Linked DNA regions of Homo sapiens: all the other regions are linked to region 5. The links come from fine-mapping of genetic effects on gene expression. A gene starts in region 5. Each other region holds a variant in brackets. All regions are shown on one strand. Distances are from middle to middle. Region 1 overlaps TMCC3 (transmembrane and coiled-coil domain family 3). Region 2 has its middle 43 kb from the start of TMCC3. Region 3 has its middle 6.5 kb from the start of MIR5700. Region 4 has its middle 26 kb from the start of TMCC3. Region 5 holds the start of TMCC3 (transmembrane and coiled-coil domain family 3). Region 6 has its middle 12 kb from the start of MIR492.

Region 1 (5,067 bases), 38 kb after region 5:
TGGGCCTCCTCGGACCATGCTTGGACACCCCATAGTGTGGGATTCATTCCCCATAGGGTGGTGAAGGCTCAGGTTCATGTGATTTCTGCCTGGGGGAGCCTTTGATCTCACAGGAAATCTGTGTTCACTTGTGGCTCTTTGTCATAGAAGACTTCTCTATATTGACACAAAATGCAATCTTTCTTTCCTTCCCTGAACATTAAAATATTTGCACACATTTATTAATTCAGGTGGTTTTGTCCTAATCAGTTCTGTAGCAAAGGTTTGCCCATTGTTGATAGTGATCCCCAGTCTTCAGAAACCAAAACACCTGGGGGTGGGAGAGGAGGGAAAGTTGGAAAAGTTTGCTGCTTGTCATTTGATCATTTGGGTCTTGGAGGTTACATTTCTGTTGTTTAAAATACAAAAATTAGCTGGGAGTGGTAGCAGCGTCTGTAATCCCAGCTACTCGGGAGGCTGAGGTAGAATTACTTGAACCCAGAAGGTGGAGGTTGCAGTGAGCTGAGATCGCGCCACTGCACACGAGCCTGGGTGACAGAGTGAGACTCTGTCTCAAACCAAAAAAAAAAAAAAAAATCTGTCTGTTGTTTAAAAAAAGAAAAAAGTCAGAGAGGCCAGTTGTTCCGACAGCATATCATGCAATAGCCTCGTAACACTGTGAGTGCAACAGTTGACAGAGCTTGATGCACACAGTTTCAATTGGAATAAAAGGGAAAATGGCTCCCCAAACTGCAAGAGTGCTGCTTGTAAAACAGTCAGAGCTGCTTTCTGTGCCAGGCTGTTCAAAAAGATGTGGGAACAGGGCTTGTCCTGGTTGACAGGCCATTCTGGAGAAACCCTGACAATGCTGGCCACCCCTCTGCTGTCCTTCCCACCTGTTCCTTTCTAGTCAGTTTATGGAGAGGAGGTTGTTTTTGCTTCCAGGGGGATTACTTGTGGCCTGGGGGCAATTACAGGGCTTTCTCCTGACTGCATGCTTCACATTCCTGTGTGTAACCAGTGAGGATAATGATCCAAGAAGATCATTGCAGTGGTGACCCGAGGACCTTTGAGACCAGGTCACAATTTAAGTAGGGTCTCAAATTTAGATTTTAACATTATTACCCAACGAGTTAAGTATAGAGCCAGAGATAAAGCAATAGGATTGACAGAAGACATTCATTCTACAGCTTAAGCAAACACACACACACATTTTATTTTACTGTGTAATTTACTCCATAGTTTTTTTTTTTTTTTTTTTCTGGAGATGGAGTCTCACTCTGTCGCCCAGGCTGGAGTGCAGTGGTGCAACCTCGGCTCACTACAAGCTCCGCCTCCCAGGTTCACGCCATTCTCCTGCCTCAGCCTCCCGAGTAGCTGGGACCACAGGCACCCACCACCATGCCCGGCTAATTTTTTTGTATTTTTAGTAGAGATGGGGTTTCACCGTGTCAGCCAGGATGGTCTCGATCTCCTGACCTTGTGATCCGCCCATCTCGGCCTCTTGAAGTGCTAGGATTACAGGTATGAGCCACTGCGTCCGGCCTACTCCATAGTTTTTATTTTAAAATGTTTGTAAACTAATATCATACAAAGAAGATATTCCATTAAAAAATACATGAAACACCCCTGTACGTTATACCCAGGGTGAGGAGATGAACTTGACCCTGTGACCTTCCCTGATTGAGCATCCCTACATCACAAGCCTTCCCACCCCCAAGAGGTCATCGCTGCCATAAGGTTTAACTATTCTCAAGATTTTTCTCTTTTTATCACATGTGTGTTCATACCTAAAAAAGAGTTTGCCTGCGTTTGACCTTTATAAAGTAGAATTCATAAAGTATGTGTTCTTTGATTTGCTTCTTTTAAGATTTAATCATTTTATTCTTTTTGAGACGGGGTCTCGCTCTGTCACCCAGGCTGGAGTGCAGTGGCGTGATCTTGGCTCACTGCAGCTTCAACCTCCCAGGCTCATCCTCTTGCCTCAGCTTTCCAAATAGCTGCAACTACAGACGTGTGTGCCACCATGCCTGGCTAATTATTATTATTATTATTATTGGTAGAGACAGCATTTCATCATGTTACCCATGTTGATCTCGAACTCTGGGCTTATGTGATCCACCAGCCTCGGCCTCCCAAAGTGCTGGGATTACAGGTGGGAGCCATTGTGCCTGGCCCATTTTAATTCTTGTAGTTCTGGTTTATTTCATTCCACTGTACAAATAAACACAATGTGTGTGTGTGTGTGTGTGTGTATCCATTTTATTGTGTGTATATATATATATATCTCCAATGTGCGTGTATATATATCTCTCCATTTTATTGCCCATAGGCTTTGGATTATTTGTGGGTTGTCTTTTGTTATTGCTTTTATTGTTTTTCTTTTGCAAGTGATGCTGCTGTGTATATTTTCAATGTGCTCCTAACAGGGGCACTTGCTCCTCTAACCTACAAATGGAATTTCTGGGTCTCTAGGGGATGCACATGCTCAAATGCCAAACAGTTTTTAATGTTTTAAGAATCAGTTAAAATCAAACACTGCAAATATACCTTGCAGTCTGCTTTTAGCATTGCTTCATTTTAAAATGAATCCTAGAACCACTGAAAAAATTTTAAAAGTGCAAGTAATTCT[G/A]TCTTGCTTTGTCTTCTGAGAAACTGACTTTAACCTTAAGGAGATAACATTATTCCTTTTTTGTAGTTGTAGCTGTAGAAACAATTTTTGAAGGACAAAACCAAACTTTAAAACTTGAGGCCAGGTGCGGTGGCTCACGCCTGTAATCCCAGCACTTTGGGGGCCGAGGCGGGTGGATCACAAGGTCAAGAGATCGTGACCAGCCTGGCCAACATGGTGAAACCTCGTCTCTACCAAAAATACAAAAAATTAGCCGAGTGTAGTGGCGGGCACCTGTAGTCTCAGCTACTCGGGAGGCTGAGGCAGGAGAATCACTTGGACTCGGGAGGCGGAGATTGCAGTGAGCCGAGATCGCACCACTGCACTCCAGCCTGGTGACAGAGCGAGACTCCATCTCAAAAAAAATAAATAAAATAAACTTGAGAACCATTTGGGCACGCTGGCTCATGCCTGTAATCCCAGCTTTAGGAGGCCAAGGCAGGCGGATTGCTTGAAACCCAGGAGTTCGAGACCAGCCTGGTCAACATGGTGAAACCTCGTCTCTACAAAAAAATACAAAAATTAGCCGAGCATGATGGTGTGCACCTGTAGTCCCAGATACTCAGGAGGCTGAAGTAGGGGGATCAGTTGAGCCCAGGAGATCAAGGCTGCAGTGAGCTGTGATTGCACCACTGCACTCCAGTCTGGTTGATAGAGCAAGACACTGTCTCAAAAAACAAACAAAAACACCAAACCTGAGAATCACAGGTAAAACAGTCTAGCCTCAGGAATCACATGAACTATATGTAAACAGTCTCTAGATGAACTCTGTGACCCTTCAGTTGCCATGAATGGATATACAGTTGGCCCTCCACATCCACGGATTTCACATTCATGGATTCAACCAACCAGGGGTCAAAAATATTTAGGAAGAAAAATTGCATCTGTACTGAACAGGTACCGAGTGTTTTTTTTTTTGTCATTATTCCCTAAAAAATACAACTATTTACAAGCATTTACATTGTATTAGGTATTATAAGTAATCTGGAGATGATTTAAAGTATACAGGAGGATGTATGTAGATTATATGCAAATACTACACCATTTTATATCAGGGACTTGAACACTCGCAGATTTTGGTATCTGCAGGAGGTCCTAGAACCAATCCCCCATGGATTCCAAGGGACAACTGTATATATACGCCTATCATACACTGCCATGGTCTGCTTGTATGAGTATTCTCAGTGAAGAGTCTTTATGGAAAACATCATTGCCCATGAAATACAGATTCAAAGCTGTGAGCCTTGGGCAACCCAGTTCTCAGTAGAAATATTTCAGTGGCATTGGTCCCTTAAAAAGACAGCATTTTATGAAGTTATTTAAGAAAGATGTAACATTAGTATTCAATATTTTAATGGGACTTTTACTTGAAAACTTATATTTATGACTTGGCAATTCCAGCTTAGTCCCATAAAATTTGTTTTAGAACTACCTTTTAAGCCATGGTTTTATTTCCTTGGGAAATGGGATTTAAAATTTCTCTTTTCAGTAGGGAGTTACTTTTCTAAAAGTAATTACATAAACAAAATTCAGTTAGGATGAGTTACAAAAATGCCTACTATCCTATAGATTATTTATTTTGCTACTGTTAGTAAAATCATAGGTCACTGGAGGAGACAAGGAAGTATCTTAAGTGTGCTAATGAAATTTTGCAGGTATTTGCATATTAGTCTCACTTTGAAATTCAGGCACTGGGGATTTTTTTTTAATATGAAAATAAGATGAATTACTCTCTCAAAAAGATAATATAAAACAAAAAGTATCTGTGTCTGCAGATTCCCAGTCCTATTCCCCAGAGGTAACTACCATCCACAGTTCTTAAGACAGCTTCTAGAAATGTTCATACACATAGAGTATACAATTGTACATATCTATCATAAATCCCTCCACCCCTCGTTTAAGCACAGATGAGCGTGCACAGTAGGCATAGCCCTGCGTCTTGCTTTTCTCTCTTAACAGTTTAGATTGAATAGCTTCCCATGGTAGCCCATTCAGATCCGTTTCCATTTTAGTGGCTGCATCATTTCCCATTGTACTAGAATTTTAAAAAGAGGTTCTCTATTGATGGATGTCTATGCTGTTTGCAGAATTGGCAGCAGATGGGGTGGTTGGTGGTGGTGGTGGTGGTAGGGGTGGCAGACTATCATTTTTTTAGAAGCAGCATAGAAGAATCAGAGAAAGAGGCAGAAGACTTGTAAATATTTTCATCTCCATTTCTGTTCTTTATATCTCTTGAAAAAAAAATTTTTTTTTTTTTTGCCTGCCTTAAGGTGTTTTCAGAACTATATGGAAGCCCAAAAGGGCTAGATGGTTTTTTCTTCCTAGCCCTTCTTTCCTTGTGGTGATCATGATGGTGAAGGAGATTATGATATGTAACCAAAACACTGGGGAAAAGGAATGTATTTACACTTGGTGGC
Region 2 (5,075 bases), 42 kb before region 5:
TGGGGTGGATCTTGAGGGGCAGGTGGAAGGTACCAGCACCGCTGCCACCCTGGGCATGCCCAGGAAATGGTGGGGCAGATCGCAAGTTCAGTTTTGCACACTTCTTGGCATTCGTGCAGATTCAGACATTCTTGGCTCCAGGTGTCTAACAGATGGCTAGATCTTCCAGGTAGACGGTTACAAATTACTTTTTGTAAGTGTGCATTTGGAAAAAGTCCGGCAATGGATTAGTTGGAGGACAACGAATTGAAATTGGTTCTTCTACATAGCCTTTGAGACTGATTCATTATCTCAGTAGCTATATCTCTTAAAAAACCTCAGTTCACTTATTTATAAAATGAACACGGTAATACATCCTTCTCAGGGACATGTAAGGCCTCAACTAGGTAAAGTCTAAAGGTTTTATAGGCCTTATTATGATTTTTAATAGACTTTTTAACAATTTTTGAGACTTCTCATGGAGATGAGAAGTCTTAATGTGCAGAGTAACATAGGCCCTCTTAGATTTGAGATACAGGTGCCTGTATCTTTCTTTAGATTGTTGACTCTGTGGCATATTATAGACTGTCACATCTTAGAGGTTCATCTTGGAGGTGAATAACTTGACTTGAAAGGTCATATGGATTTTTCTTTGACATTTTTGCACTTTAGATCAGCAGTCCCCCACCTTTTTGGCACCAGGGACTGGTTTTATGGAAGATAATTTTTCAGACAGTGGGCGGGTTGAGGGGAAGGGATAGTTTGGGGATGATTAAAGTGCATTACATTTATTGTGCATTTTATTTCTATTATTATTATTACATTGTAATATATAATGAAATAATTATACAACTCAACATAATGTAGATTCAGTGGGAGCCCTGAGTTTGTTTCCCTGCAACTAGACAGTCCCATCTCGGGGGGCACGGGAGACAGTGACAGATCCTCAGGCATTACATTCTTGTAAGGAGCGCCCAACCTAGATCCCTCGCATGCACAGTTCATATAGGTTTCATGCTCCTATGAGAATCTAATGCTGCCTCTGGTCTGATGGGAGGCGGAGCTCAGGTGGTAATGTGAGTGATGGGGAGCAGCTGTAAATACAGATGAAGCTCCACTTGCTCGCTCGCTTGTTCGGTCACCTGCCACTCACCTCCTGCTATGCAGCCCAGTTCCTAACAGGCCATGCACGGGTGCCAGTCCATGGCCCCGGAGTGGGGCACCCTTGTTTTGGACGGTCTCAGACATGCTGACCAGGATAATTGGGACCCTCTCTACCTAGGATCATCCACTTAAATCAACTGACTAAACTTCCTCCCTCATTATTGTAATCTGTATACTACAGGTAAACTCTAGAATAAATTACTGATGTAAAAATTGAACACGTAAGGACTGTCATGTCATATATCTACCAAGTACCTTAAGGTTTAAGCAGTATGTTGGTAACTATGTGAAATACCTGAAACTCTCACACATTATTTGTGGTGGGAATTTAAGTTGGTTCAGCCGTTTTGAAAAACCAGCAATTTCCACTAAAGCTAAATGTATACCCACCCCAAGAATAGCAGTTCCACTACTAGGTATACAACCAAGAGAAATATGTACATGTGTCTTCTAAAAGACATGCACAATAGTGTCCATATCGGCCTTATTCCTAACAGCCCCAAACTAATTAATAATCCAAGTGGATATCAAGAGGGGAATGGATACAATAAAATGTGGTGCTTCCTATACAGGGAAATACTTCATAGCAATATAAATAATGAACTAATTAAAATATAAACTAATGAAACATGCAGGAACATGGATGAATTTCAAAGATATCATGTTGGGTGAAATAAGCCAGACACTAAAAGAGTACTTTTACGAAGTTCAGGAAGAGGTAAAACTTGTTAGTGGTTATGGAAGGAAGTTAAAAAAAAAAAAAAAGATTATCCCTTATGCCAGGGTGGGGCTGGGAAGTATTGATTTGAAAGAGTCATAATGAAACATTCTGGGTGTTGGAAATATTCTGTATTTTGATACAAGTGATGTTACAGAGGCATACCTATGTAAAAATTCATCAGACTGTATACTTTAGCTTGTGTACTTTACCTACTTTGCTTCTTATACACTATAATAAAAATGGTTTTGAAAAAAATTTATTGAGTGTTACAGCCAAATCTTGGCAAATGTGGCAATGATAATACCAGGAAACGTAGTGAAAAGTTTGCCTTAACTATAACGTGATCTTTCTGGAGAGTTTGGCAATGTGTATTGAAAACCTTAGGCACATGCACACTTTTGACATAACTATTCTTTGGAA[A/G]TCATTAAGATCGTGTGTAGAAGTTTCTTCATAGGATGTTCATTTCAATGTCCTTTGTAATATTGAGCATTTGGAAATAACCCAATGTTCAATTTAGAGAATTGGTAATAAATTCTGAAATAATATGCGGCTACTTAACAAATGTAGTGGAGGAAGGGGCTGTGTTTGCTTTCATGTGTGTTTCTATGGAGGAAACAAAGTAGACAGGACAAAGACTTCAGAAAATGGTTAGTTGGCTTAAAAGTGGCTGGCTCTAATCATGATAAAGACATTTGAAATATGTTTATTGAATGAAATTGATGGATAGTAGATGTCCGATTATCACATGATTTCATCCCTGGAAGAAAAATGCTATAGGTCTCACATTCCTTCCTGAAAATCTGTTTCTTCTCGTATTCTTTCACTTAGCCTTAGATTTGTCTGGGGTCTGTGTATCTGATTCAGACCCAGCAAATAAAATCTTGCCTGTGGTCTTGAAAGTGTATTTTTCCTTTTTAGCATTGCTGGTTGTATTCGTCCGTTTTCATGCTGCTGATAAAGACATACCCGAGACTGGGTAATTTATAAAGAAAAAGAGGTTTAATGGACTCACAGTTCCATGTGGCTGGGGAGGCCCCACAATCACGGTGGGAGGTGAAATGCACATCTTACATCGCAGCAGATGAGAGAGAATGAGAACAAAGCCAAAGGGGTTTCCTCTTATCAAACCATCAGATCTCGTGAGACTTACTCACTACCATGAGAACAGTATGGGGGAAACCACCCCTATGATTCAGTGATCTCCCACCAGGTCCCTCTAACAACATGTGGGAATTACGGGAACTATAATTAAAAATGAGATTTGGGTGGGGACACAGCCAAACCATATCATAGAGAAACTCCAGGCCTCTAAGAGAGGCTGTTGATGTAAATATAGGGACTGCAGTGGCTCACGCCTGTAATCTCAGCACTTTGGGAGGCCGAGGTGGGTGGATGACCCAAGCTCAGGAGTTCAAGACTAGCCTGGGCAACATGGCGAAACCCTGTCTCTACCAAAAATACAAAAATTAGCTGGGCGTGGTGGCATGCGTCTGTAGTCCCAGCTACTTGGGAGACTGAGGCAGGAGGATCACTTGAGCTCAGGAGGAGGAGGCTGCAGTGAGCCAAGATCGCACCACTGCACTCCAGCCTGGGCAACAGAGCAAGACTCAGTATCAAAAATATATATATATATATATAAATATATATAATATATATAATATATATTATATATACACACACACAGAGAGAGAGAGAGCGAGCGCATGACACTGAGTGATAAACAGTAAAGCCATTCAGAGGAAAGCTGCTGGATAAAATGGAAGCCTGAAAACATTCCCACAGTAAAATCCTACCCTGTGTTTCGTTACCATTAAATATCCTTTCAGAGTTATCTCTAAGAAGCCCACTTGGAGACATCTAGACTTTCTAAAATTTAATAATGTCTCCAATGGAAATAACATTACATGCTAATTAATTGTCATGGGGTAACATTATTCAAATTGGTAACTGTAACTCCCAAAGATTACATTAAGTTTGATCAGTGGGCACAGCTGTTCTCTGAGAAATAAATTCAGAAACTTATTTCTGTCTCTTCTTCTTTTGACCAAAGGAAAAATTAAGTCAGTGACCTTGGTAGGTTTCTTATTTTGAACAATGTGTATGAGATTTTGTGCTGTCATTTCTAAAAGCTTTTTAATTCAGGTTAGCCAAAAATCTCTGGAAGAGGGTAATTTTTTCACTGGAAAATTCGAGTGTCATATTATTTTCAAGGTTACCTTGTATTGAGCTGGGTTTTTTGTTTTTTTTTTTAATGTCTCAGAGCTTCAGTTTCTAAATCTGTAACATGGAAATAATAATGGTACAACATCTTAGTGGTAGTAGAAGAATTACATAGTGTCTGGCATGCAGCAAGTGCTCAATTATTGTAACTCTGTATGTTTGCATAATAACTCCAGGTGTATAGCATTATATACACAAGTTATCTTGGTTTCTCACCTCCTATTTACACCATATTTGGCACATACTAGGCATCAATTATTTTTTTGCCTAAAGTCCCCTATTTTGTGGGATCGAAAAATCAAATCAATTGAACTCATAGACATAGAGAGTAACAGGATGGTTACCAGAGGCTGGGAAGGGTAGTGAGGGTTGGCGGGGAGGTTGGGATTGTTAATGGATACAAAAAAAAATAGAAGGAATGAGACCTACTATTTGATAGCACAATAGGGTGACTATAGTCGATAATAATTTAATTGTATATTTTTAAAATAACTTAAAGAATGTGATTGGATTGTTTGTAACTTAAAGGATAAATGCTTGAGGGGATGGATGCTCCATTCTCCATGATGTGTTTATTTCACATTGCATGCCTGTATCAAAGCATCTCATGTACCCCATAAATATATACACCTACTATGTACCCAGAAAAAAAACATTTAAAATAAAAAAAAATAATAAATTTTAAAAAATGAAGTTCCTTGCTTTGGTTTGTCTTATATGGAAAAAAAATGGTGTCTAGTATTTTTTTTCTCTAGACCACACCAACCTGGTGTTTCAGTAGAATTACAAATATTTTCCAGTAAAATTAAACATGACAATAGCAATTTAATCCCTTTCAAAACTCTCCATTTTATTCAAGAGGATTCTCGTGGTACCCTGTCTTTCTACCTCATTTGTTCATTTATTCATTCCACAAATATTTACAGAATACCAGTCCTGAGCTGTGCACACAGGTAGGTGCTGGGGACATTGTGAACAAGACAAGAAGAGT
Region 3 (5,075 bases), 96 kb after region 5:
TTCTTACTTGACACATGAAGGAACAAGAGGCAATGGTGCTGAAAGGGTGAGAAATGGTACAGAAATGGTAGAATTGGAAATCAAACCCTCCTCTGTCTGATGCCAAACCATCAAGTCACTTCCAGGGACATGAAACAATCTGTGGCATGCCTTTGGGATCCTGAATTAGCAGAATTTCTGGGATTTCAGTGATTTATGAGAACACTATACAATTAGCAGTGTTTCTGTACACTAACAGCAAATTATCTGAAACAGAAATTAAGAAAATTCCATTTACAATAGCTACCAAAAATTAAAATACTTGGGAATAAACTTAAGGAGGTGAAAGATCTGTACACTGAAAACTAGAAACCACTGATGAATGAGATTGAACAAGACACAAATAAGTGGAAAGATATCCCATGTTCATGGATTGGAATAATTATTATTGTTAAAATGTCCATACTACTCAAAGCAATCTACAGATTCAATGAAATACCAATCAAAATATCTATGACATTCTTCACATAAATAAAAAAACACTTATGAAATATATATGGGATCCCAAAAGACCACAAATAGTCAAAGCAATCTTGAACAGAAAGAAGAAAGCTGGAGGTATCACATTACCTGATTTCAAAATATATATAAAACTGTGGTAAACAAAACAGCATGATCCTTCCGTAACAACAGACAGATAGACCAATGGAACAGAATAGAGAGCCCAGGGACAGAATATTAGAAATTTAGAATTTCTGATTTTGAGTTTTCTAGGATGTTTGAAAGCCATCTTCTCAGAATAGGATGGTCAGAAGGTATAGAGAGGGACCCAGCCTTCAGTTATAGTTATGCAGCCTCCCAAGGCCTGGCTCGCTCTCTTTGGAACCTCTTTGGAACTTCAGGGGCTTGAAGATTCCCATTGGGCATAAGGAAGTTGAGATCTGCTCCCAGGTTTTAGTACTTTATATTTATACATTATTAATGCATAAATAAAAATATAATATGTAATAACGTTTACTATATATTTAGAGATGTTCAGTTCTATATGTAAATCAATTTATTTGTTTAAATTTTTAAAAATTTTGAACTGATCATAAACTTAGTGAAAAGTTGGATGTTCTGTACAAAGAATTATATTTTTCCTGAACCACCTGAGAGTAACCATCAGTTGCCAACCTGATATCCGGTCACATGCAGTTACTCTAACGTGTAATTCCTACAGATAAAGACGCTCTCCTTCAAAACCATAATACAGCTGTCAGAATCAGGAAGGTAAATAGATGTCTTACTGACATCCAGTCCTTAGACCCCACTCAAGTTTCACCAATTGTCCCAATAATTGCCTTTGCAGCAAAATGACCTAGTTCAGAATTACAGGTTACCTTTAGTTATCTCTTTTGTCTCCTGAATGAAAGAATTCCTCCCATCTTTCCTTGACTTTCATGATCATGGCACTTTTGAAGATTATAGGCCAGTCATTTTGTATAATGTCCCACAATCTGGTGTTTCTTTGTGATTAAACTCAAGTTATCCATCTTTGGCCAGAACATCACAGAAATGATACTGTTCTCATTGCATCCTGTCACATAGAGCTCAGTTTCCATTTGTCCCATTATTGATGATTTTGCTTTGATAATTAAGGTGTCTTCTAGGCCCCTTCACTGTAAAGATGTTTTGTCCCCATGAGTAATTAATGAGGATTTAGTGGAGAAGTATGTTGTACCTCCCATTTCTCACCAAACTTTCAATTTATTCATCTATTTGCTAATATTAGTATGGAATCACTGTTTCCTATTTTATTCAAAGGGTTGTAATCCATGATTATTATTCATTTTAATAACAAGTTGAACCCTGTACAGCTGTGGGAACTCATTTAAGCAATGTTTTGTGTCCTTTTGCCATGTCCTCATTATTCTTTGAGCAAGCACGTGCTCCAGGCTCATGTTGTACTTTCCTTGCCCTAGACCTAGAACTGACCGTTCTTGTAAGGAGCCTGGGTTGCATTTGGTGGAAAACTGCATTTTAAAGCCAAGATCTGGATTCTAGGTTTGCTCTGCTATTAGGGCATCACCACTCCCAGGTCGTCATAGTAGACAGGGTAGGGAATACATTTTGTATATGGATATATGTATGTGTGTATAGTATGTAATGATACAGGTACATACATAGACATCTGTTATGGACTGAATCTTTGAGTCCCCCAAAATTCATATGTTGAAGCCCTAGTCCCAATTGTGATAGTATTTAGAAATGGGGCTTGTGGAAGGTAATCAAGGTTAAATTAGGTTATTAGGGTGGGGTCTTCATGATGGCATTAGTGGCCTTATAAGAAGAGAGGGCATGGCTGGGCGAGGTGGCTCACACCTGTAATCCCAACACTCTGGGAGACCAAGGCAAGTGGATCACTTGAGGTCAGGAGTTCAAGACCAGCCTGGCCAAATGGTGAAACCGCGTCTCTACTAAAAATACAAAAAATTAGCTGGGCATGATGGCACATGCCTATAATCCCAGCTACTCGGGAGGCTGAGACAGGAGAATCGCTTGAACCTGGGAGGCAGAAATTGCTGTGAGCCAAGATTGCACCACTGCACTCCAGCCTGGGCAACAGAGCAAGACTTCGTCTCAAAAAAAAAAAAAAAAAAAGAGCAGCAGTCTCTCTTTCTCATTCTCTCTTTCTGTCCCATGATGTAAGGACACAGTGTGAAGGTAGGGAGCAAGCCAGGAAGAGGGCCCTAGCCAGCATCTTGATCTCGGACTTCCCAGTCTCCAGAACTATGGGCAATACATGTCTGTTGTGTAAGCCACCCAATCTAGTGTATTTTGTGATAGTAACCTGAGCTGACTAAGACAATGTCTGTATTTATTTATATACTTATATGCATTTATATAAAAATTTAAATCTCTGCTGATTTCTGCATCTATGTCTATATTGAAAATCATGAGTGCGCACTAATACCTCCAATACCAATCAACACCTCTGGGTTTATTCAAGCTCTCCTTTCCATATTTGTAACTTCTTTCTCCTACAGTGAAAGCACGGACTTCCATTGTCTCTAACATATTTACTCATTTTCTCCACTCCCTCTGTATAACAAATTTCCCATCTCTGCTGCCCACATCTCCACCATGTGGGTGATGGTTGGGTACTAACA[G/C]TGCTGACTGCCTCGCCCTACTTGGATCTAAGACAACCTTGCTGGTGGCCCCAGTGCATGTACCTCCCTGCCACCCTCTCTGGCTTTGACACATGCTCCAGGCTGCCCATTCAAGGAAGCCCTCTTCCACCCTTCTGGATTGATGACTCTGCCGGGTACCCCCTCCCCTGTGTCCTCCTCCCCATGCCTGAGCTCGGCCACCCTGCTCTAGGCTACCAGCCCCTCCCACCATGGGTCCCTGCCTTACTCTGTTCAACTAACTGCTAATGGCTTTAAAACTGAATTATTCTGGAAGGAAAGGGAACAAGGAAAGGAAGAGCATTTTATTGTGGGTTTTTTCCTGATTATTTTAGTAATACAAAATGACTTGGAGACATTTGGGGAAATATAGAAGAGACAGAGAAAGATAAAAATCCGCATTAATTCTTCCACCTAGAGAAAACCATTATTATCCCTTTCCCTCCAAAAACGTTGAACTTAAACAAAAACAACCTTCACCACCCAACCCTACCCACGAAACTACTACTTTCCTCAGTTGAGAAAAGAATATATGCACATGCCGGGCACGGTGGCTCACGCCTGGAATCCCGGCACTTTGTGAGGCCGAGGCAGGCGAATCACGAGGTCAGGAGTTTGAGAACAGCCTGGCCAACGTGGCGAAACCTTGTCTCTGCTAAAAATATAAAAATTGGCCAGGCATGGTGGCCCGCACCTGTAATCCCAGCTGCTCGGGGAGGCTGAGGCTTGAGAATTGCTTTAACCCAGGAGGCGGAGTTTGCAGTGAGCTGAGATTGCACCATTGCACTCCAGCCTGGGCGACAGAGTGAGACTCCATCTCAAAAAAAAAAAAAAAAAAAAAAAAAAAAAAAAAAGAATATGTGCACATGGTTGAAAAATTCAGAAGTAACCTTCCTTCCCACCCAGATCCCCAAGACCCCTCCCCAGATGCAACTGTTGATATCTGTGTATTGTGTATTCTTCCAGCTATTTTCTATGCATATATAATATATGTTTACTCCATTTCTCAACCAAATTGAATTTTACCTTTCTTACATATTTCCTCTTAGTCTTTTTGCTCTGCATGTATATAATCTAGCAAAATATGAACTTTTTCCTATAAGTTGTCACTTGAAGTGCCTGCACAATTTTCCATCATGTATGTGTTTCATTGGTTTCATCTCCTGTTGTTGGGTATCTGCAGTTTTTTACTATCATAAATGATGGGCTTTGTCTTTATTGTGCCAGGGGAGTCATGAAGCCAACCCAGCACAGTGAAGCAGTTCAGCTGCTTTTGGTGGCTAGTAATAGAATGTTGAGCCAAAACTGGCTAAAACAATAGAGGTTTATTTTTCTCAATAATAAGCATTCCAAGGCCGGGTGCGCTGGCTCACGCCTGTAATCCCAGCACTTTCGGAGGCTGAGGCTGGTGAATCATCTGAGGTCAGGAGTTCAAGACCGGGCTGGCCAACATGTTGAAACACCGTCTCTACCAAAAAAAAAAAAAAAAAAAAAAATTAGCCAGGCATGGTGGCTCATGCCTATAATTCCAGATACTTGGGAGGTTGAGGCACAAAAATTGCTAGAACCCGGGAGGCAGAGGTTGCAATGTGTTGAGATCGTGCCACTGTGCTCCAACCTGGGGGACAGAATGAGACTCTGTCTCAAAAAAAAAAAAAAAAAAAAAAAAAAAAAAAAGCATTCCAGAGGTGGGTGATTAAACCAGTTTTGCCCAAGATGCTAAAACACAGAAGATAACATTTCAAAGCCAAGTCACTATAGGTAGAATTTCCAAAGCGCAGGTTTGAGGGCCTCTCCCTGTGTTCCTGAACTCCTCACCCTTTTCAGGATTGAGAGAGGGGAAAGAGAAGATTCTTCAACTGTTTTTTTTCTTCAGATTTCTTCTGAGGTGCCCAGGATGGAGGTTTTACTGCCCTCAACTTAAGG
Region 4 (5,075 bases), 26 kb before region 5:
AGTCTTCTTTGAGGAGGAGCATTTGATCTGGGCCCAGATGGGAGGAATTTCTGTGAGAGAGGAGGGATTATTCTATGCAGCAGCGGAACCATAACCTGCAAAAGCACAAAGGGAGAGGCAAGGCACGTGCAGGGCGCGGTGAGTGAGGCAGAATGACTGCAGGGCAGAGGGTGCGGGAGTGCAGGAGGGTAGGTGGGAAAGACTGGTCAGAGGGCGTTTGTGGAAGGTCTCAGAGGCTGGTGAGCATCATGTTAATCTCCTAGTCCATCCCTCAGGTTTGAGAGCTGAATACCCACTAAATAAGAATTGCACTGTCTTTTTTTTATTCTTTTTGCATTTATAATACTTACGATCCTAGCCAGGGCTGACTTGGAGGCAAGAATAATTCCCTGGCAGTTTTAGGAAGCTGCATGAATTACACATTCCTGGTTATGTGGACTCTCAACTTTTTGTAAACGGTAAGTGTATTACCAAAGGTGTATGATTCCTTGTGCAGCCACCCCCACGGCCCCCATCCCACCCCACCCAACCCCCGCCCTGCTGGCCATTCCTAGCTACAACCACAGAAGCCAACGCAGCCCAGAAGACAGTGCTGATTTGGGTGTTCCTGTCATTGGGCAGCCCTAGACTCCAGGCCTAGGGCGCGGCGGGGGTGGGGTGGGGGCAGGAGGGAGGGCAAGAGGAGGAAGGAAAGCCAGTCTCTTTTTGCAGATAGAGAAGAGGGTGCCCAGAAGAATTGTGCTGAGCTGGTGATTTGAGCTGTTATCTGCTTGGATGTACGATTGATTCACTCCTACTCCGAGGTTCTCAGAGCCCAGAATGTTCCATAAGTGAAACAATTGATGCATTCGGTCTCTGTGGCACTTAATCCACCACTCCTACCCCCATTTTAATATTTGTAATAGTGATCAGTGAAGGGCAGGACTTGAATGTTTTAGAACTAAAACGGGATAAAAAGTAAAGTCCTAATAATGGTTCTCTTCTGTCTTTGTCCCTCTAATTAGAGAAGGCCATATCCATGTCTCCATAGGAAATGGACAGTTAGGGAATTGGTACCGGGCTGGAGTCATGTGTAATCTTGCCCTGCCTGAGGGAGGCCTGATGTTGGAAGTATTTAAGAGAGTCTGAAAGCTTGGCTGCTCTAATAATTAGACTGGCTGTACTGGTTTTTCTTTGCTTATTAAATCACAGGCCAGAAACACCTCTGTGGCAGGACCTGTGTACTGAATTGGTATGCTGTGAGATCCAGAGCAAACTGAAAGTATGTCACACTTTGAGCATTTTCACAGACCAGTCATGGCCACAAGTTTAGGCCTGGCTTAACCTGATTCACTGGAAATCAGCTTCAACAGCACCAGCTGTAATGAAAAGTAAATATGCAGGTGTTTGTTGTTATATATCTGGCATTGTTAAGCTATCACTGAATTTTTTAAAAATCTTGAATCAGTTGGTGAATGTACATGTATCCAAACAGCTTGCTTCCAGACTGTGTACAATATCTTCTTTCTTTTTTTGAGACAGAGTCTCCCCTGTTGCCCAGGCTGGAGTGTAGGGGTGCCATCACGGCTCACTGCAGCCTCAACCTCCCAGGCTCAGGTGATCCCCCCACCCCAGTCTCCCGAGCAGCTGGGACTACAGGTGCACACCACCATGCCTGGCTAGTTTTTGTATATTTTGTAGAGATGGGGTTTCACCATGTTGCCCAGGCTGGTATCGAACTCCTGGGCTCAGGCGATCTGCCTCGGCCTCCCAAAGTGCTGGGATTACAGGTGTGAGCCATTGTACCTAGCCCATAAGTATCTTTTAATGCTTACCTTCAATTATGATAGATATTGGGAATACCTTGCATTTGTATAAAGCGTTTTTACTGGCTGATTTCAGTTGTTTGAAATCATGCATCCTCTGTCAATCTTCTGGCTGATTCAGTTGTTTGATTCTGCCCAGAACCAAGTGTGGCATAATAAATATTAGCTCCTTGATCCACAGAGGATGCTGACCCTGAATTGAGTGACTTATACAAGATGACAAAGCTAGACAGTGGCTGGCCGGAAAGAGCAGCCCACTAGGTCATCTGCTTTTGGGTTCAGTGTTGGGGTTTCTCCACCACATTGTGACAGAATAGTCTGGCTTGACTGGTTTTTTCTAAAGCACTGATTTTTCAGCTTCCCAAGAAAACCAGAGTAGATCCTCTTTTTGTTTATTTTGTTGACCCAGTTATACACCTTCTGTTCTATAGCTTTTCCCATCTTCTAGGATATGGGACGCAAATTTTATGCATAGCCAATGATTTTTTAAACCAAACTCATAAGCAAAATCTGAATTTCCTTGGAGCAGGAAGCAGAGAAAACAAATACCTTCTCTGTGCTGATTGCTCACATAGACATGCTAACCCACACTCTGCAAAGGGGTTGAGTTTTAGAAATTTAAATTACTTTGTTGTCACCTAAAATAAAACCTTCCCTAGACACTCCCCCAGCACTCTCTTTTTTAGTTTTTATTTTTGAGACAAGCTTTCGCCATGTGGGCCAGGCTGGTCTGGAACTCCTGGCCTCAAGTTATCCACCCACCTCAGCCTCCCAAAGTGTTGGGATTACAGGCGTGAGCCACCGTGCCCAGCCCCTCTGCCCTCCCTTCAACTATAGCCTTATCTTCCTCCTTGTCTGCTTTGCAGGCCAACCCTGGAGAGAGTTGGCTAACTTCCTGTCCTTA[T/C]TTTCTCATCTCCCTCTTGTTTCTCACTCTTCTTCCGGCTGGACACTGGCCAGGTTTTTGTTAAGGTCACCGGTGGTCTCCACATGACTCAGTTCAGTGGACTTGAGTTTTTCAGACTCAATTTATTTCTCTTAGGGGATTTAGTACACACTGTGACCTTGGGAAATTTACTTCTCTAAATTATTTGCAAAATGGGCGTAGCACCTTCCTCCTCAGATTGTAGCGAGGTCTAAATGACATAGTTTGTGGGAAGTGGTGAGCATAGTGTCTGCTACAGTGAGAAGTACATGCTAACCACTGCTTTTATCAACACACTTCCCCTGGTTCCGGTGACACTGTATTTTCTTGTTTTCCTCCTATGCCTTTGGCCCCTTCTACTCCTCTGTGTTATCATGAAAGGAAATGAAATGCGTCTGCGGCAACAGGACTCTGGATGTGAGTCCCTGGATGTGAGGTGTTAAAGGAGGGACACTCCCAAGAGAAGTCTTAAGCAACTAAGTGGTGGTGCCATTTGCTGAAAGGTGGGATCCTAGAGGAGCCAGAGGGGCATGGAGGAAGGCGGGCACACTTGAACATACTGAGCCATCCATGTGTAGATGAACTGGATGGATGGGTGAGTAAGGCTGGAGGTCAGAAGAGACATAGGAGCAAGAGGCTCCATGGCCGGGCAGGTGGCTCACGCCTGTAATCCCAGCACTTTGGGAGGCTGAGGTGGGCGGATCGTCCGAGGTCAGGAGTTCAAGACCAGTCTGGCCAACATAGTGAAACCTTGTCTCTATTGAAAATACAAAAATTACACTTTGGGAGGCTGAGGCGGGTGGATCGCCTGAGGTCAGGAGTTCGAGGCTAGCCTGGCCAACATGGTGAAACCCCGTCCCTACTAAAAATACAAAAATTAGCTGGGCATGGTGGCGCAAGCCTGTAATCCCAGTTACTCGGGAGGCTGAGGCAGGAGAATCGCTTGAACCCGGGAGGCGGAGGTTGCAGTGAGCCGAGATCGTGCCATTGCAATCCAGCCTGGGCTACAAGAGCGAAACTCCATCTCAAAAAAAACAAAAAACAAAAAAACAAAAATTAGGTGTCGTGGCATGCGCCTGTAGTCCCAGCTACTTGGGAGGCTGAGGCAGGAGAATCAGTCGCTTGAACCTGGGAGGCAGAAGTTGCAGTGAGGCGAGATTGCTCCACTGCACTCCAACCTGGGCAACAGAGTGGGACTCCATCTAAAAAAAAAAAAAAAAAAAAAAAAGCCAGCAGTGGTCTGGGAGAGAAAGCAAGATGGGAAGGGAACGGTCTGGGACAGATGCAGAGAAACGTTGAACTGTTTCAATAGCCTCCTGATCAGCCTCCCGGCTTCCACCCTGGCCCCCCCATAAAAAGTCCTTACTCTGCCAGAAAATGCCACAGGATCTGCGCTGCTGTTCTTCTAACCCCAGGCTGCTTCTCTGACCTCATCTCCACCCTCCCCGCTCTCCTGCTCGGCTCACTCTGCTCCACCCATGCTGGTTTTCTTGCTGTTGTTCCTCAAATGGATCAAGTGCTCCCCTTCCTTGGAGCTTTTGCACTTGCTGGTCCTTTTGCCTAGAATGGTCTTTTTCTAGATATTCTACATGTATCACCCCCTCACTTCCTTCAGTTCTCTAGTTAGGTGTCCCAGCCTATCCATGAGAACTTCCCAAAACATATTATTCAGAAATGCAACACTCATCTATCCCCTTTTCTCTGCTTTCTAAAATTTACTAGCATCTGATATGATCTATATCTACCTGACATATTTTGTTATATTGCATAATATGGTATTATATACTATGTTTCTATATGTGACACATGTAATAATGATAAATATATATACTAATATACCATAATATATATTATACCATCCCTATATATTCTAATCTGCTATATTATACAGTAATTTTTAAAATTTCCCACCTCCAAATATAACTCCATGAAGCCAGCAACCTAATTGTGTTCACTGCTATATCCTTGGAGCCAAGAACATTTCCTGGCATGAAATATACACTTGCTAATATCTGTGGAATTAAGAAATTCCAACATTTCATGATAGCAAAAAAAAAAAATCAACTTTTATCTCCCCCAGGGTTGCCATTTGAAGCTGCAAGTACATTATGCAGAGTTGGTTGCTGTGGTACCAATATGTTTTACATTTTGTATAGTAATGTTCATGAAATGAAGGATGGGTTTCCAATTTCCATTAGTGCAGGATGCACTCGAGTCCTGCCAAAAGTTTCTTCCCTTTTGAAATGCCTTATCTCCAGCTTAAAAACTTCAACTTCCTTTTTTAAGACCCAGCTCCCTTTCTCAGGAAATGTGTGTTTCTACTAGGATACAAATGGGATTTATGATGC
Region 5 (5,075 bases):
TTGCTTCAGCCTCCTGAACAGCTGGGATTACAGGTGCAAGCCACCATGTCCAGCTAATTTTTTTTCTTTATTTTTCCTTTATCTGGTATTGGTTTTTGTTTATGCTGTGAGGTAGAGATCAATTTTATTTTCATCCAAGTGAAAAGGTAGATCATGCCACTCCTTTGCTCAAAAATTTCCAAATCTTCCCATATTCCCCAAAATTAAAGTTCTTTCTTTTCTTTTTTTTTTTTCTTTGAGTCAGAGTTTTGCTTTTGTTGCCCAGGCTGGAGTGCAATGGCATGATCTTGGCTCACTACAACCTCTGCCTCCTGAGTTCAAGCGATTCTCCTGTCTCAGACTCCTGAGTAGCTGGGATTACAGGCATGCGCCACCATGTCCGGCTAATTTTGTATTTTTGGTAGAAACAGATTTTCTCCATGTTGGTCAGGCTGATCTTGAACTGCTGACCTCAGGTGATCGGCCCACCTCAGCCTCCTGAAGTGCTGGGATTACAGGCGTGAGCCACCACGCCCTGCCTAAAATTAAAGTTCTTAAAATAGAATGAAAGTCCATATATGATCTGGCCCTCTGAAATGTCTCTGACCTCATCTCTTTCCAGTGAACACTGGCCTCCTTGCTCTTCCTTGAACACTCCCGAAATGTTCAGGGCCCTTGACTTTCTGTTTGTCTGCTGGAAATTTTCAATGTCTATACTTCTGGCTTCCTCATTTCCCAAGTCTCTGCTCAAGGTCACCTTATCATGGAGGACTTCTCTAGCCACCCTAGCTAAAATCTCCCTCCAACACACACACACACACACACACACACACACACACACCCCAGCGTTTGGTATTTCTCTTCTTTCAAAGAACTTACCTGAAAAACTCTCTGGGTCTAGTATAGTTGTGTGTTGGGGTAGTGGTAGATGGGTATTTTTAAAAGTGTTGATTTAATTTTTTGAATGGCTTAAGGACTACATGGGACTTTCAATTTCTTCTTAAGTTAGTTTTAACCCTTTCTCTACAAAAAAATATATTTTTAAAATTAGCCAGAAATGGTGGCACACACCTGTAGTTCTAGCTACTTGGGAAACTGAAGTGGGAGGATCCCTTGAGACCAAGAATTTGAGGCTGCAGTGAGCTATGATTGTGCCACTGCACCCCAGCCTGGGCAACAGATACCCTATCTCTAAAAAACATTTTTTAAAAAATTTTACTTTCTGAATAGTTAATATATGCCCACAGTATAAACATTCAAGTTTCAAAAGTATACACAGTGAAAATTAGATCTCTCTCCATCTCTGCCTTCTAGCTACCTGGTTCCCCTCTCTTGGCATCAATTTCTTGTCTGTTTCCCTAGTTTCTTATTTATCCTCCCAGATATATGTCGTGCATGTAGAAGCACATAACATATATTGTTTTTACATAAATGGTGGAATGCCATATATATTATCCTGCACATTGCTTTTTTTCCACTGAACCATGTATGTTAGATTTGCTTCCAAAGCTATTCATAGAGGGCTGCCTCATTTCTATTCCAGTTACCTAATATTCTATTGGATGATGTACCATCATTTATTTACTTAGTCTCCTTCTGAAGGATAATTAGGCTATTCTGTCTTTACAGTGGCCTTCTAAGAAGCCAGTGTGTTTTGCCCATCTTCAATCGCTGCTTCACCCTGATGTCAGATATACCTTCTCCTTAAACTTCCATTCCCATGCTATCATTTCCCTGTTCAAGAATTTCCAACAGCTACCCAGTTCCCACAGAATAAGGCTGAACTTCTTACCCTTGAACGAAGATTCTGCATGGTCTCTGCCTTCTTTTCCATCATGTCTTCCTGTTCCTGAGGACACTCCCCAAAACTGATGACTTGAGGTTTTCCCAAATGTACCTCTGATTTTAGGGGCTCCAAAGTTTTCTTCAGCCTGCTCTACCGTCCCCTTTGAACCCTATGAGGGAAATCCTTCCCTCCCCCTGGACTGGTCACACTGGGCTCCAGGTCCTCTCTGGAACAGCTGCACTTTAAATATTTCAGCCCAGTCTCCCACTGTACACCCTACAGAGCCAGAACAGGTGTTTTGAATTTTGTTTGGGGTTACTGATATTTAAATTGTTCACCAATGGTCCTTCCTCTTCTAAACTCCAAATTCCTTGTGGGCAGGGACTGATGACTGGGAATGGGGAATACTAAAATGAAAAGATATCCTGACTTCCAAGTAGCTTAAAACATAAAGGTAAGCTGGGCACAGTGGCTCACGCCTGTAATCCCAGCACTTTGGGAGGCTAGGGCAGGTGGATCACGAGGTCGGGAGATCGAGACCATCCTGGCTAACATGGTGAAATCCCGTCTCTACTAAAAATACAAAAAAATTTAGCTGGGTGTGGTGGCAGGCGCCTGTAGTCCCAGCTACTTGGGAGGCTGAGGCAGGAGAATGGCGTGAACCCGGGAGGCGGAGCTTGCAGTGAGCCGAGATTGCGCCACTGCACTCCAGCCTGGGTGACAGAGCGAGACTCAGTCTCAAAAAAAAAAAAAAAAGAAAGAAACATAAAGGTGAGCCAGATATGCAAAATTAAAATACACAACACAGTAGGATCTTAGTTTAAGTGGAAGTATGCTCTATGCTCAGGGCAATCATGGTCGGGGGGAGTTTTTATTTTATTTCATTTTTTTACTTTAAATCTCTGGTCTCTAGTCCAGCGTCTGGTACATGGCAGCTGCCCAGTAAGTGCCTGTTGAATGGAGAATAACATAAAAAGAGGCATTTAAGGCAAGTGTCAACTTCTTGCAGTAACAGTCACCTTTTATATATAAAATAAGTCAACAGATAGTGTAGTGTGGATGTCGCTTATCTTTTGGGGAGAAAGAGGGCTGTGTGGGAGGGGATGGAATCAACTTTCAGCCAGGGAGGGAGGCGAAGACATTGCCTCCCGGGTCGGGGGTGGGTGGGGGGTCCAGGCGGCTGCGGGGCGCGGGAGAGGCGGGGAGAAGGGAAGGGGGAGGAGACTCTCGCCTCCTGCCCCGCCTCCCCCACCCCGCGGCGGCGGCGGCGCAGGGCGGCCGCGCGGGTGTTGGCACCAGAGGCAACAGCTGCAGCAGCCGCGCCGCCCCCTCGCCCGCGGCTCCCAGGGTGATCCCGAGCACAGCCGGTGGCTCGCGGCGCGGCAGCCCCAGAAGACGGGAAAGTTCGCGGCCGGAGCGCGGAGATGCCGGGCAGCGACACGGCGCTCACCGTGGACCGGACCTACTCGTACCCCGGCCGGCACCACCGCTGCAAGAGCCGGGTGAGCGCAGCGGGCTGGGGGGCGGCGGGTGCGCGCGGGCCCGGGGGCGAGGCGGGCTGGGGCGGCGGCTCAGTGCTAACCCACGCGCCCCCGGCGTTTCGCCGCCGCCCTCCGCTGCCGCCGGAGGTCCGTGCCTCCCCGATCCTCCGAGCTAAAAGGGTGGGCGTCGGGGGCGTCGGAGCCCAGGCTGCGGTTCTGGGATCCCAGGTCCGCCTGCCCCTCACGGCGCCCAGGTCCCCGCGCGCTATGCGGGACGCCCGGTTCCCCGACGGCCCGCGCTCTGCTGTCCTCCCCGCCAGGGAGCGCCCGCCGCTCCGCGAGGGAATCCCGCCACCCGGCCACCCGCGGCCCCGCGTCTCCAGGTCTCCGGGGTCTCGCCCTGGGTGTGACGGTGCCCTCCCCGCCGAACGTCCCGGCGGCCGCCCTGTCTCCCTGTCCTCGGGGCGTGTGGCCGGAACCCGAGCGCGGTGCGCAGCCGGAGCGCGGGGAGGCGGCGGACGGGCTCTGCCCAAGTGAAAAGTCAGAATCTTTGCGCTGCCTCTCCGGAGTTTCGAGCCGAGCCGAGCAGGCGCCCTCGCCATTGTTTGCAGTGTAATTTGCTGTTGCTGATTTTGGCTGTGGGCGAAAATAGCTCATTCTGAGCCTGCTGCAGAGACGAGCCCTGTAGGGCTTCAAAATAAAGACGGAGGCCGCAGCCCAAGCGCGGGTCTGTCCTGGGAGAGGAAGCCTTCGCCCTCCCCGGTGAATACCTTTGCCCTCCCGGGCTGTTGAATCGTCGAGGCTGGATGTGAGGCTCTGTAACCCGTTCTCCCCAGGGCTGATTGAAGTGCCATTTAACAAAGCACCTCCTCCACGCTGGCATCTGTTCTGGCAGGAGGCACCTGGAGTTGTTCTTTGCTCCGCCAACTACTTACTCGCTTGTCCGAGAACTGGGGATTTGGGTGTCAGCCTCTGTGTAAAGTTCACGGAGGGAGAGCCGGGCTCAGATTCTGGCCTGCCACTTCCAAGATCGAGAGACCAACTGGATGGAAATAGTAGCAATAGTGACGGGGTTGTGTCGCGGCCCTTTGTGCAGGATTTTGGTCTTCACTCATAATTTGAAGTAGTAATCGATTGCCCCAGAAGTGAAGCAATGAGTCTCTGGTTTATTTGCCCGCTTTCCCTTTTTCCTTTAGCATCTGTTAATCATTTTGGAAGGATGATTTGAGTTTTTACAGATTGAATATATTTGGTGGAATAATACCTCATGCACTCATCTCAATCTTACAATTCTCTTGTTTTTGCACTTTGTGTATAAGTTTCGTAACAGTTTGCTGTGAAAATAACCAGAAACTCCATTTGGAATAAACATTGAAGAAATGTGCTTACCCACAGGTAGACATTTCTTCTTGGATAGCTGTAATGCTAGTTAACAGAACTATGAAGAAAAGGAGATCATCTTCGAATGCATTTGTAATTGAGAGGATTCTGTAAAGTTAATATTGCAGACTTGAAATGTGAAAGCTTGTTTTTTCTTGTCACAACTGTGATCTTCTTTGTGTAAACAAGATTAGTAATCTTAGCGGGATGGATGGCTCATTGTCAACTCATTTAAGTGGTTTGGCAAAACTCATGCAACTTTACAAAACTCACTCTTCATAACCTGTAAAATGGTGGTGATAAAGTTTGTGCCTCAACTGCTTAGGTGGAATGTGGTAAAGCAATTGTGTAAGGTAACTGCAGAGTGTTTCTGCCGCATCTGCCACTGTTGCCTGTCTACGCCAGTCTTTTCTATTAAAAGGTCAAAACCTTATGTGATTTCTTGATTT
Region 6 (5,075 bases), 170 kb before region 5:
CTAACATTGACAGTGGGGTGTTAAAGTCTCCCATTATTATTGTGTGGGAGTCTAAGTCTCTTTGTAGGTCTCTAGGGACTTGCTTTATGAATCTGGGTGCTCCTGTATTGGGTGCATATATATTTAGGATAGTTAGCTCTTCTTGTTGAATTGATCCCTTTACCATTATGTAATGGCCTTCTTTGTCTCTTTTGATCTTTGTTGGTTTAAAGTCTGTTTTATCAGAGACTAGGATTGCAGCCCCTGCTTTTTTTTGTTTTCCATTTGCTTGGTAGATCTTCCTCCATCCCTTATTTTGAGCCTATATGTGTCTCTGCACATGAGATGGGTTTCCTGAATACAGCACACTGATGGGTCTTGACTCTTTATCCAGTTTGCCTGTCTGTGTCTTTTAATTGGAGCATTTAGCCCATTTACATTTAAGGTTAATATTGTTATGTGTGAATTTGATCCTGTCATTATGATGTTAGCTGGTTATTTTGCTCGTTACTTGATGCAGTTTCTTCCTAGCCTCGATAGTCTTTAAAATTTGGCATGTTTTTGCAGTGTCTGGTACTGGCTGTTCCTTTCCATGTTTAGTGCTTTCTTCAGGAGCTCTTGTAGGGCAGGCCTGGTGGTGACAAAATCTCTCAGCATTTGCTTGTCTGTAAAGTATTTTATTTCTCCTTCACTTATGAAGCTTAGTTTGGCTGGATATGAAATTTTGGGTTGAAAATTCTTTTCTTTAAGAATGTTGAATATTGACCCCCACTCTCTTCTGGCTTGTAGAGTTTCTGCTGAGAGATCTGCTGTTAGTCTGATGGGCTTCCCTTTGTGGGTAACCTGACATTTCTCTCTGGCTGCCCTTAACATTTTTTCCTTCATTTTCAACTTTGGTGAATCTGACAATTATGTGTCTTGGAGCTGCTCTTCTCGAGGAGTATCTCTGTGGTGTTCTCTGTATTTCCTGAATTTGAATGTTGGCCTGCCTTGCTAGGTTGGGGAAGTTCTCCTGGATAATGTCCTGAGGAGTATTTTCCAACTTGGGTTCCATTCTCCCTGTCACTTTCAGGTACACCAATCAGACATAGATTTGGTCTTTTCACATAGTCCCATATTTCTTGGAGGCTTTGTTTGTTTCTTTTTACTCTTTTTTCTCTAAACTTCTCTTCTCACTTCATTTCATTCATTTGATCTTCAGTCACTAATACCCTTTCTTCCAGTTGATTGAATCGGCTACTGAAGCTTGTGCATGCATCACATAGTTCTTGTGCCATGGTTTTCAGCTCCATCAGGTCATTTAAGCTTTTATCTACGCATTTATTCTAGTTAGCCATTCGTCTAATCTTTTTTCAAAGTTTTTAGTTTCTTTGTGATGGGTTTGAACATCCTCCTTTAGCTCAGAGAAGTTTGTTATTACCAATCGTCTGAAGCCTACTTCTGTCAGCTTGTCAAAGTCATTCTCCGTCCAGCTTTGTTCCATTGCTGGCGAGGAGCTGCGTTCCTTTGGTGGAGAAGAGGCGCTCTGATTTTTAGAATTTTCAGCTTTTCTGCTCTGGTTTCTCCCCATCTTTGTGGTTTTATCTACCTTTGGTCTTTGATGATGGTGACGTACAGATGGGGTTTTGGTGTGGATGTCCTTTCTGTTTGTTAGTTTTCTTTCTAACAGTGAGGACCCTCAGCTGCAGGTCTGTTGGAGTTTGCTGGAGGTCCACTCCAACCCTGTTTGCCTGGGTATCACCAGCGGAGGCTGCAGAACAGCAAATATTACAGAACAGCAAATATTCCTTCCTCTGGAAGCTTTGTCTCAGAGGGGCACCTGGCTGTATGAGGTGTCAGTCGGCCCCCTACTGGAAGGTGTCTCCCAGTTAGGCTACTTGGAGGTCAGGGACCCACTTGAGGAGGCAGTCTGTCCGTTCTCACATCTCAAACTCCGTGCTGGGAGAACCACTACTCTCTTCAATGCTGTCAGACAGGGACGTGTAAGTCTGCAGAAGTTTCTGCTGCTTTTTGTTCAGCTATGCCCTGCCCCCAGAGGTGGTGTCTACAGTGGCAGGCAGGCCTCCTTGAGCTGCAGTGGGCTCCACCCAGTTCGAGTTTCTGGGCCGCTTTGTTTACCTACTCAGGCTTAAGCAATGGCAGATGCCCCTCCCCTAGCCTTGCTGCTACCTTGCAGTTCGATCTTAGACTGCTGTGCTGGCAGTGAGCAAGGCTCCGTGGGCTTGG[G/A]ACCCTCCGAGCCAGGCGTGGGATAAAATCTCCTGGTGTGCTGTTTGCTAAGACCATTGGAAAAGCGCAGTATTAGGGTGGGAGTGTCCCGATTTTCCAGGTGCTATCTGTCACGGCTTCCCTTGGCTAGGAAAGGGAATTCCCCGACCCTTTGTGTTTCCCGGGTGAAGCGATGCCCCGCCCTGCTTCACCTAACACTCCCTGGGCTGCACCCACTGTCTGACAAGCCCCAGTGAAATGAACCCGGTACCTCAGATGGAAGTGCAGAAATCATCTGTCTTCTGGGTCACTTACGCTGAGAGCTGTAGACTGGAGCTGTTCCTATTCGGCCATCTTGGAACCCACTCAGCTGTTTATATATTTTCTTTGGTGAAATGTCCATTCAATTTTTGGCCTATTTTTATTTTTATTTATTTATTTATTTATTTTTAAGGTGAAGTCTTGCTCTGTCACCTAGGTGGGAGTGCAGTGGCACAGTCTTGGCTCACTGCAACCTCTGCCTCCTAGGTTCAAGCGATTCTCCTGCCCCAGACTCCCAAGTAGCTGGGATTACAGGCATGCTCTACCATGCTTGGCTAATTTGTGTATTTTTAGTAGAAACGGAGTTTCACTATGTTGATCAGGCTGGTCTTGAACTCCTGACCTCAGGTGATCTGCCTGCCTTGGCCTCTCAAAGTTCAGGGATTACAGGCGTGAGCCACCACACCCGGCCTGGCCTATTTTTAAATTGAGTTCCTTGTCTTATTATTGAGTTGTGAGAGTTCTTTATATATTCTGGATATAAGTGCCTTATCAGATATCATTTATAAATATTTTCACCCATCTGTGGCTTGCATTTCATTTTCCTTTTCTTTCACTGGTAAATATGTAGAGTAATTAATTAATTTTCTTAATGGTGACTTTTGAAGAGAGCTTTTAATTCTGAAGTCCAGTTAATCAATTTTTTCTTTTATAGTTTGTGTTTGGCCTTTGCCTCTTAGCACCCAAATATTCCTGTCTCTTTGGTTTATTCTTAGTTTAGATGTCCCAATTTTTACTCTTTCATTCTCCCTGGATCTACATTTATTCCTGTTTGAGGACAGAAGGCAAAGCCCAGCCTCCAAGTTCTCTTGCTAATACACTGTGTTGGGCACCTTCCTGGAATTGTGTGTTCAGGCCTTTGGTAACTATGCAGGCCTTTGGTAACTTTGGCTACCAAATCTTGAGATAGAAGGTGAAATTAGACCTTCCTCAGCAATTTACAATTGAAGTCAGATAAGAAAAATGACTGCTTTATATGCAAATTTTTCTTTTTTAAAAAATTAGTTGAGTGCTTCTCTACTTATTGATAAACATCAATAATTATAAAAATATCCCTTACATTGCTTTAAAGGTTTTCAGAGTTAATTTACCTTTATCTTCTCATTTAGGTCCTTTTGCAGATAAGAAATACAAGAGTTTAAGTAGAATAAAAGGGTATTTAACACAAATTAGTTAATATTGGAGACACAAGTATTATTTGATCATTTTTTCCAGAGTCTACCAAGAATTTATTTATTTATTTATTTTGAGATGGAGTCTTGCTCTGTCGCCAGGCTGGAGTGCAGTGGTGCGATCTCAGCTCACTGCAACCTCCGACTCCCTGGTTCAAGCAATTCTCCTGCCTCAGCCTCCCAAGTAGCTGGGATTACAGGCACATGCCACCACACCCAGCTAATTTTTGTATTTTTTTTTAGAGACAAGGTTTCACCATGTTGGCCAGGATGGTTTCGATCTCCTGACCTTGTGATTCGCCTGCCTCGGCCTCCCAAAGTGCTGGGATTACAGGCGTGAGCCACTGCGCCTCGCCCCAAGAATATTTACCATTCACCATGCAAAAATGAGTGGGAGGAGAGGGTAGCACTGGGCTCTGTCTACTAATCTGATGAAGCTCAGCTATAGTCAGAACCATAGAATTGCAGATTCTTGATGCTGAAAGGGGCCTTGAAACTTCAGAGTGCATCCCTTCACCCACCAGAGGAATCCTTAGATTGCTCTTGTTGGTTGATAATCTTCTGGCTCCCAGGCACTTTCAAAAAGAAAGCTTAAAACTTTTCAAGCCCGTGGGATCAATTCTTGGATAATTTTAAGTATTGGAAAATCATTTTATGTATGGAGCCTAACTTAGCCTCCCCTGTAAATTTCACCCGTTGGTGACACAAAACAACTAGTGCCATTCTTTATTGGCAGCTCTTCAAATATCGAAGAGTACCTTAAACCATCACTTCCATGGTTGCCACCTGTTCTATCAACTATTTTGTGTTTAATTTGGATTCCAGACTTACAGCTGTGATAGTCACTTCTTGCTAGATGCAATTCCGATTGTCTATATCTTTTGTGCCTAAATCAAACCTACACATCAGATATGGCCTGGCTGGGAGAGTTTTGTGAGCCTGTTAGCTCCTTTGCTCTGGGTGAGGGCTGCCCAGTGGTGTTAGTTACTTATCAGCTACATTGCAGTGCTGACACGTGTTGGGCTTGTGATTAGCCAAAACGCAAATTTTATTTTCTCCTGTGGATTTTGGCTAAGCCAGTTCTCTAATATCTTTTCTTATGTAATTGCTATCTTCAATATAAATGCAGGGATTTACAGTTAATATTACTATTTAACATTAATGATAATACTAGTAACTAGCATCTTTTGAGGACTTACTATATTTATCTTGTTGGGTTTTCCCCAGGATGTGCCTCTTGGGATCATTTTGAATCTTATTTCTTCCCTTTTCTTGGTTTTTCTCTCTACTGAGAGAAATGTTTGTATATTTAGTTCCTACCCATCTGGGTCTCCTGTCTGCCCAGATATATTTTAATTTTGGCTAGTTTATAGTGATGGTAGGATTGTAAGACCTCAT

The links. PIP is the estimated chance that this variant, and not a neighbour inherited with it, causes the effect.
Region 1: its variant is fine-mapped to the expression of TMCC3 in lung (TOPMed, PIP above 0.99).
Region 2: its variant is fine-mapped to the expression of TMCC3 in whole blood (TOPMed, PIP above 0.99).
Region 3: its variant is fine-mapped to the expression of TMCC3 in transverse colon (CEDAR, PIP 0.95).
Region 4: its variant is fine-mapped to the expression of TMCC3 in whole blood (TOPMed, PIP above 0.99).
Region 6: its variant is fine-mapped to the expression of TMCC3 in lymphoblastoid cells (GENCORD, PIP 0.95).

What each region holds. Positions count from the first base shown.
Region 1 is chr12:94,610,271-94,615,337 of GRCh38, reverse strand. The region is part of intron 1 of TMCC3 (transmembrane and coiled-coil domain family 3); the gene reads left to right. Among named protein-coding and RNA genes, the nearest start is that of TMCC3, 38 kb to the left of the region's middle. RefSeq lists an enhancer at 674-1,263 and a silencer at 1,192-1,422. The variant G/A (reference allele first, on the strand shown) is at 2,612.
Region 2 is chr12:94,690,922-94,695,996 of GRCh38, reverse strand. No RefSeq gene overlaps it. Among named protein-coding and RNA genes, the nearest start is that of TMCC3, 43 kb to the right of the region's middle. The variant A/G (reference allele first, on the strand shown) is at 2,285.
Region 3 is chr12:94,552,732-94,557,806 of GRCh38, reverse strand. No RefSeq gene overlaps it. Among named protein-coding and RNA genes, the nearest start is that of MIR5700, 6.5 kb to the left of the region's middle. The variant G/C (reference allele first, on the strand shown) is at 3,132.
Region 4 is chr12:94,674,119-94,679,193 of GRCh38, reverse strand. No RefSeq gene overlaps it. Among named protein-coding and RNA genes, the nearest start is that of TMCC3, 26 kb to the right of the region's middle. RefSeq lists enhancers at 2,415-2,524, 3,115-3,224. The variant T/C (reference allele first, on the strand shown) is at 2,710.
Region 5 is chr12:94,648,545-94,653,619 of GRCh38, reverse strand. It overlaps TMCC3 (transmembrane and coiled-coil domain family 3), which reads left to right and starts at 3,063. Exons shown (of 4, transcript NM_020698.4): 1 at 3,063-3,267. The coding sequence starts at 3,190. It overlaps LOC105369914 (a long non-coding RNA gene), which reads right to left. Exons shown (of 2, transcript XR_945225.4): 1 at 4,017-5,075; 2 at 2,618-2,715. RefSeq lists silencers at 2,940-3,109, 3,130-3,599, 3,690-3,819 and an enhancer at 2,896-3,611.
Region 6 is chr12:94,820,291-94,825,365 of GRCh38, reverse strand. No RefSeq gene overlaps it. Among named protein-coding and RNA genes, the nearest start is that of MIR492, 12 kb to the left of the region's middle. The variant G/A (reference allele first, on the strand shown) is at 2,206.